Linked DNA regions of Homo sapiens: region 2 is linked to region 1. Evidence: fine-mapped expression QTL. A gene starts in region 1. The other region holds a variant in brackets. All regions are shown on one strand. Distances are from middle to middle.

Region 1 (2,900 bases):
GCATCCCTGAAAGAAACTGAGACATTGAGAAGTTAAATAGTTTGTCCAAGGAAACCTGCGCGTTAAGTGGCAAATCCAAGAGTCAAAACTCTGCCTTCCAAACAATCCCACCAAGACTCCAAGCCACCTCTTCATGATATACTGATATACTTTCTACCAGGGCCCAGTGGATTTCCTCGGTGCCACTGTGATAGTATCCCAGCGTGGGGAGAGCCTGCCCATTCATTCACTCTCAGGGAGCAGCTGGTGGGTGGCTGGAGCCCAGGGCTCTAGGCAGAGCCTGAGCCCACTATTGCTCCAGCCGATTCCTGGGTCCTGGTTAGTTCACAACAGCACCAGAACCAGAAGCATGCAAAATATTCTCTAGTCTGTACCAGTAGATACAATACCTGCCTCAGAGGGCTGATTGTTAGCTAACACATTGTGATTTGCTTTAAATGTGCTCAATACCAGCCCCTTTATCACTTCCCAGCTTTCAAGGACTGAGGCCACAAAACACTGACTGCAGGCTCTTTCAGGTTTCAGTAACCATCACCACCTAGCACCAAGATTTGGAGTGGAGAGGTTTCCATGCAGTTATTTCACAAGAGGGAAAACTCACACCTGCGCTCAGGGACACAGATGTCCAAGGTCAGGCCCAGATGTTTGCCCCACCCCGCCCGCGGGCATTTTCTCCCCAGCAGGAGGGTGAGGGAGGGGGTGGCACGGATGCCCTCATCTCTCTGCCATACAATGAGCGTCAGTGGCGCGCAGAATCGCCGATTGTTCTGCCCGACTTGCAGGCGGTTGCGGGGAGCCGGGTCGCCCTGGGTCACGCACACGCGGAAGTCAACTGTGTCCAGGAAGCCCAGGAAGGCCCGGGATGGGGACGGACCTAGTGCCTCCAGAAAAGAGCAGCACTGCCCGGGCTAACTGCGGTCACTTCTCACAGTTCCCCGCCTGCGACAGCCCCGGGGCTGCGGCGGGGCTGGCAAGACCGGGAGGCGCTGAGTGCGTGCCCAGGCGCCCCTCCGCGGCGGGCAGAGCCGCGCGACTCAGGGCGCACTCACCTGGCAGCTGGCTCGGCGGCGCAGGGGCGGCAGGCGCTCTCGGAAGTGGCGGCTGGGTGCGCCCGGCCTGCGCGCCGTTTTGTTCCGCTCCGCGGAAGGCGTGTCCCGGGCCACGCCAACCAGTGGGCTTTGCACACTGCACCACTCCAGGGCTGATGTCATGGCGCGAAGCCCGGCGGTGCTGCCCTCCTAGGCCCCGGGAAGGCCGGCCGGCAGGGGCGGGGGCAGGAGTCGCCGACTCTGGGGGTGCTCCGAGCTCGTGCTGCGGTCCCACTGTGCGCCCTGTCGCCGCCACCGCGGAAAACGTCTTGCACGTGCGAGGGGCATTTCAGGAGTTTCCTGTCTGTCAGGTGAGAAGGCGGAGATATGACCTTAGAGGTCAGACCCATGATAAACTTGAGCCCCTAACGAAAGGGTGTCTCGAATTTACTTGTCCTGGTGGCAGAGGGTGAGGGACACATTTTGGGCGCCAGGGTAAGACAGACCCTTCCAGGGCAGGTCTGATTCTGCCCATCCACTCACTAGCTGGGCCCTGGGCCTAGACAGCCCTTCTGGGTTCAGGGTCATCTGTGAACGGCGTGTAATCTACAGGGATGTGAGGGGCTAAAAGGAGATCCGGTAGGACCCGCAGACCTTCAGCAGCACCCGGCATGTAATAGACACTCAATAAATGTAACTCCCCCCTCCAACAGCTCTTGCCCCTCAGTTTTTCCCAGTCTTCCCTGCTACCCTAAGGACAACACCTGGAAAAAGGTGTTCTCCCGCAAAAGCAGCAGTTCTGAAAAGTGGGTGCCTCCATAGAGGCTTTTCTCTGGGGCTCCAACCTTCAGTAGGACAGACACAGGCTCAGGCCACTCAAGCTGCCCCTGGGGCAGTTTCCAGGGGACATTCTGTCCACACCTCCTCACCCAGTCCCCAGCCCTTCCTGAGTGCCCCGTGCAGGCATTTCAGGGAGCAGAGAAGCTCACAGCCTCCAGCTGGTCACCCTACACCCCAGGTGGCCCATAGATGCAGCTGCTATGTCTTCCACCCTGGGCAGGTGTCAAGGGTTCAGGCCCCAACCGGCTTCACTTAAAGCCCTGGTTTGCTGAATCAACTTTTTGCCAGGAATAAAGTTAAGCATCTTATGATCTAGAAAATGAAGTATTTGGCCAGGCACTGTGGCTCACGCCTGTAATCCCAACACTTTGGGAGGCCGAGGCAGGCAGATTGCTTAAACCCAGGAGTTCGAGACCTGGTGAAACCCTGTTTCTACAAAAAAATTAAAAAAATTAGCCAGGCGTGGTGGTGTGTGCCTGTAATCCAAGCTACTCGAGAGGCTGAGGTGGAAGGATCACTTGAACTCAGGAGGCAGAGGTTGCAGTGAGCCAAGATTGCACCACTGCACTCCAGCCTGGGCGACAGAGCAAGAGTGTTTCTCAAAAAAAAAAGTGTTTATCTAGGTTTTTCTTGCTTTCTACCATAAGTAACATCTTTCCTTTGGCCAGGTCCATCCTATAAACAAGGCCCTCCAAGATTAAAATGTCTAGAAGCACACAACCAGTGTTTCTTGCAGATTGGGCCATCTTCATCTGACCCAACCAAGATGAAGGAGGAGAAACCAGAAGAATTTCTGGTCACGGCTGCACTGACTAAGCAATAGTTAAACAGGTCCATTAAACTGCAGAACCACCATCAGTGTCAGAGACCAAGGGCTTCCGCCCAAAGATGGCGATCCCATGGGATTTCCCCCTCTCCTTTCAATTCTCAGTATCTTGGAGAGATGAGCCTCGGAGTTTTGCCCAGGATTTTACAAAAGGGCAAACTCCTACATTACCTTCTTTGGTCTGGGTTTGTCCTCTCTGGAGTCAT
Region 2 (2,900 bases), 25 kb before region 1:
GGTGACCCGGACAATTTGCTAAGGCTCTTGGAGAAGGGCAGCCCGAGGAGGCTGGGCCTGCCGCCCATCGGGAGCGGCAGCTATTTTCCATCACATCCTAAAAAGCCCAGGGCTCTACCGCTCCTGCAGCTGGGCATAGCTCCCACCAAACACATTCTCCCGAGGTCGCCCTGGACGCCTTGCTCGGAGATGACAGAAACGAGAAAAGAAATACCTAAGTGGACATAAAGACCTAGCTCACCCTGGCCGGGTGCGGTGGCTCATGCCTGTAATCCCAGCACTTTGGGAGGCCGAGGTGGGCAGATCACCTGAGGTCGGGAGTTCTAGGCCAACTAGCTTGACCAACATGGAGAAACCCCGTCTCTACCAAAAAAATACAAAAATTAGCCGGGCGGGGTGGCTTATGCCTGTAATCCCAGCCACTCAGAGGCTGAGCCAGGAGAATCGCTTGAACCCGGGAGGCGGAGGTTGCGTTGAGCCGAGATCGCACCATTGCACTCCAGCGTGGGCAACAAGAGGAAAACTCTGTCTCAAAAAAAAGAGTCCTTGCTCACTCTTTGGTGAGGGTTTGGTATTCCACAGGGCCCCGAAGCGCGACAGCCCTCCAAGGAGAAGTGAGCGTCGGGGATTAGACGCGTGCGCTGTCTTGCGCAGGAGCTGAGTCCTCAGGGTCCACAGAGAGAGGAGGAGGGCGTGGGGTGCGCGGAAACGCAGCGCCTGCCTTTTGCCCTGACCCCACAGCACCACCTGGTGTCTCCCGGGACGGCGCAAGCGCCGCGCTTGCAGATGCTGGGCCCCCTCCCCGTCAGCCGACCCTCCTTCCCCAAGTGCCTCCCCTGCCTGGTGTTCCTCCTTCCTTGATGCGCCCCTCTGGCTGGCCCTTCACCGTCCAGTGAGTGCTTCCTGGCCTGGCCGCAGCTGGCTTACAGCCTACTGCCTTTACCCAGGTCTTATTCCCAGGAGGTGCGTCAGGGCCCCTTGCCCACCGTGGGGCTGCACTGAAAAACAGTGGCCCGGGAGCAAGACAGCTAGTGGTGCAAGGCACAGGACGGTCGCCGACAGGCCCTCCCGATCAGCCAGCAGAGGGCAGCCTCTCTCCAGCTTTGGGCCCCAAAGGCTCCCATCCGGGCCACTCCTGTAGGCCCCTCCCAGACAGAAGGGTCCACCTGGGTGTGTGGAACCAGCCGTCCTCCTGGCTGCGGAAACTTGTCCGGAGCACCTTTCGTGGGCCACCCCCTGTGCTGGAGCCAGAGGGGTTACCAAGATGGAGCCCTTGACCCCGATTGCAGAACTCCCAGCCAGAGCCCACCCTGGGCTGGCATTCCCTGAACTCCTCCAGCTCTTCTCCCGGTCATCTTGTACTTTTCTATTGCTCTGCACCATTGATGGGTGTTATGCATGCATAGGTGCCTTTCTCAGAGTCCAGGAGGGGCCTCTGTCAAGGCCACTGTTGGAGCTGGTCATCTGGGAAATAGGTACACGAGGCCTTGTTGTTATTAAAGCATCTGCTTTTGTTTTGAAAACTTAGTGTGGGCACATTTTCGAGAAGGGCTGAAGCAAAGCAGCACAGCCCCAACGCATCAGGCAGGTATGCCTAAGATGAAGGATGCCGCAACCCCTCACATGAACCTATTTCCAAAAAAAAATGTGGCCTTCCACGGACTTGCTGTGGGGGCCCTAACAGCACAGCAGGCTGAGCCAGGCCCCTCCACCACACCCCTCCTAGG[T/C]AGAAGTGAGCTTTCTAGATTTGACGTGAAAGTTCCTCTGGTTGAGTTTCCCTCTTAGGCTGGGGCTTTCCGAGCTGGGAGAAGTTCTGAGCACAGTTTTGGGGCCTAGCTGAGCCCCTCCAAGTCCAAAGTCCATGCAATTCCCAGGCCCAGATTTGGGGGTGGAGACCAGACAGGACAAGCCAGTGGTGTTTGGCTGGTCGGGTCACTTCAGACAGTGTGGTTCAGTTGGCATTGATACTGAGAAGTAATTGGTCCTTAGAAAAAGCAGGAACGAATCCACTTTGATTCATTTCCACCAGGCTGCCTGCTTTTTTTTTGAGACAGAGTTTCACATTTGTTGCCTAGGCTGGAGTACAATGGTGTGATCTCAGCTCACTGCAACCTCTGCCTCCCGGGTTCAAGCGATTCTCCTGCCTCAGCCTCCCAAGTAGCTGGGATTACAGGCACCCACCACCATGCCTGGCTCATTTTTTGTATTTTTAGTTGAGTCAGAATTTCACCATGTTAGCCAGGCTGGTCTCAAACTCCTGACCTCAGGTGATCCGCCTGCCTCGGCCTCCCAAAGCCCCTGCTAATTTGATTGCTCCCATTGAGTTCCCTCCCAGCTCCACAGACACAGGATTGGACACCAGAGTTCTGGTCTAAACAGCTTTATTGACCAGATGAGAAATCAGCTTGGGTACAGCCCATGCCTGCAGCCCTTTCAGTGGGTGGCTCCAGATAGTGTTGTCCTTTCAGTTGCTGGGAGCGGTGAGGCCCAGCCCTTTCCCCTTCCTCCCACCACTATTCCTAACCTGGGGCCTGGCAGGGGTGGAGTGATGTGATCTAAGGGTCCCTGGAGAAGGGTGGAGTGGAAGAGGCAGGGTCTTGGGTTAAAGGGAAGATTCTGAGGTCTCAGGGCAAAGGGAAAGGTGTTTGGATGAAGACTGAGGCAGTGCCTACCTCCCTCCACATCTGAGGATCAAGCAGGTGTGGCAAGAACAGAGCCCTGGCCTGGGCTCTGCTGGCCGCAGCCTCAGGAGCCAGGGTTAAGGCCAGAGATAAATGAAGATTTGAGCCATTGATAAATGCCAATATATGTTTCAGGTATTTCATTAGGATCCTCCCATCAAGCAGGGAACTAGATGTTTGAGAAGATCAAACAACATCCTGACTTTGGGGTCCTTAAGA

Evidence for each region. PIP is the estimated chance that this variant, and not a neighbour inherited with it, causes the effect.
Region 2: its variant is fine-mapped to the expression of CSRP1 in whole blood (TOPMed, PIP above 0.99).

The regions. Positions count from the first base shown.
Region 1 is chr1:201,506,021-201,508,920 of GRCh38, forward strand. It overlaps CSRP1 (cysteine and glycine rich protein 1), which reads right to left and starts at 1,103. Exons shown (of 6, transcript NM_004078.3): 1 at 1,050-1,103. CSRP1-AS1 (CSRP1 antisense RNA 1) reads left to right here and starts at 1,193. Exons shown (of 2, transcript NR_160747.1): 1 at 1,193-1,399. RefSeq lists a silencer at 805-1,434.
Region 2 is chr1:201,481,166-201,484,065 of GRCh38, forward strand. It overlaps CSRP1 (cysteine and glycine rich protein 1), which reads right to left. Exons shown (of 6, transcript NM_004078.3): 6 at 2,365-2,900. Among named protein-coding and RNA genes, the nearest start is that of PHLDA3, 13 kb to the left of the region's middle. RefSeq lists an enhancer at 1,823-2,152. The variant T/C (reference allele first, on the strand shown) is at 1,728.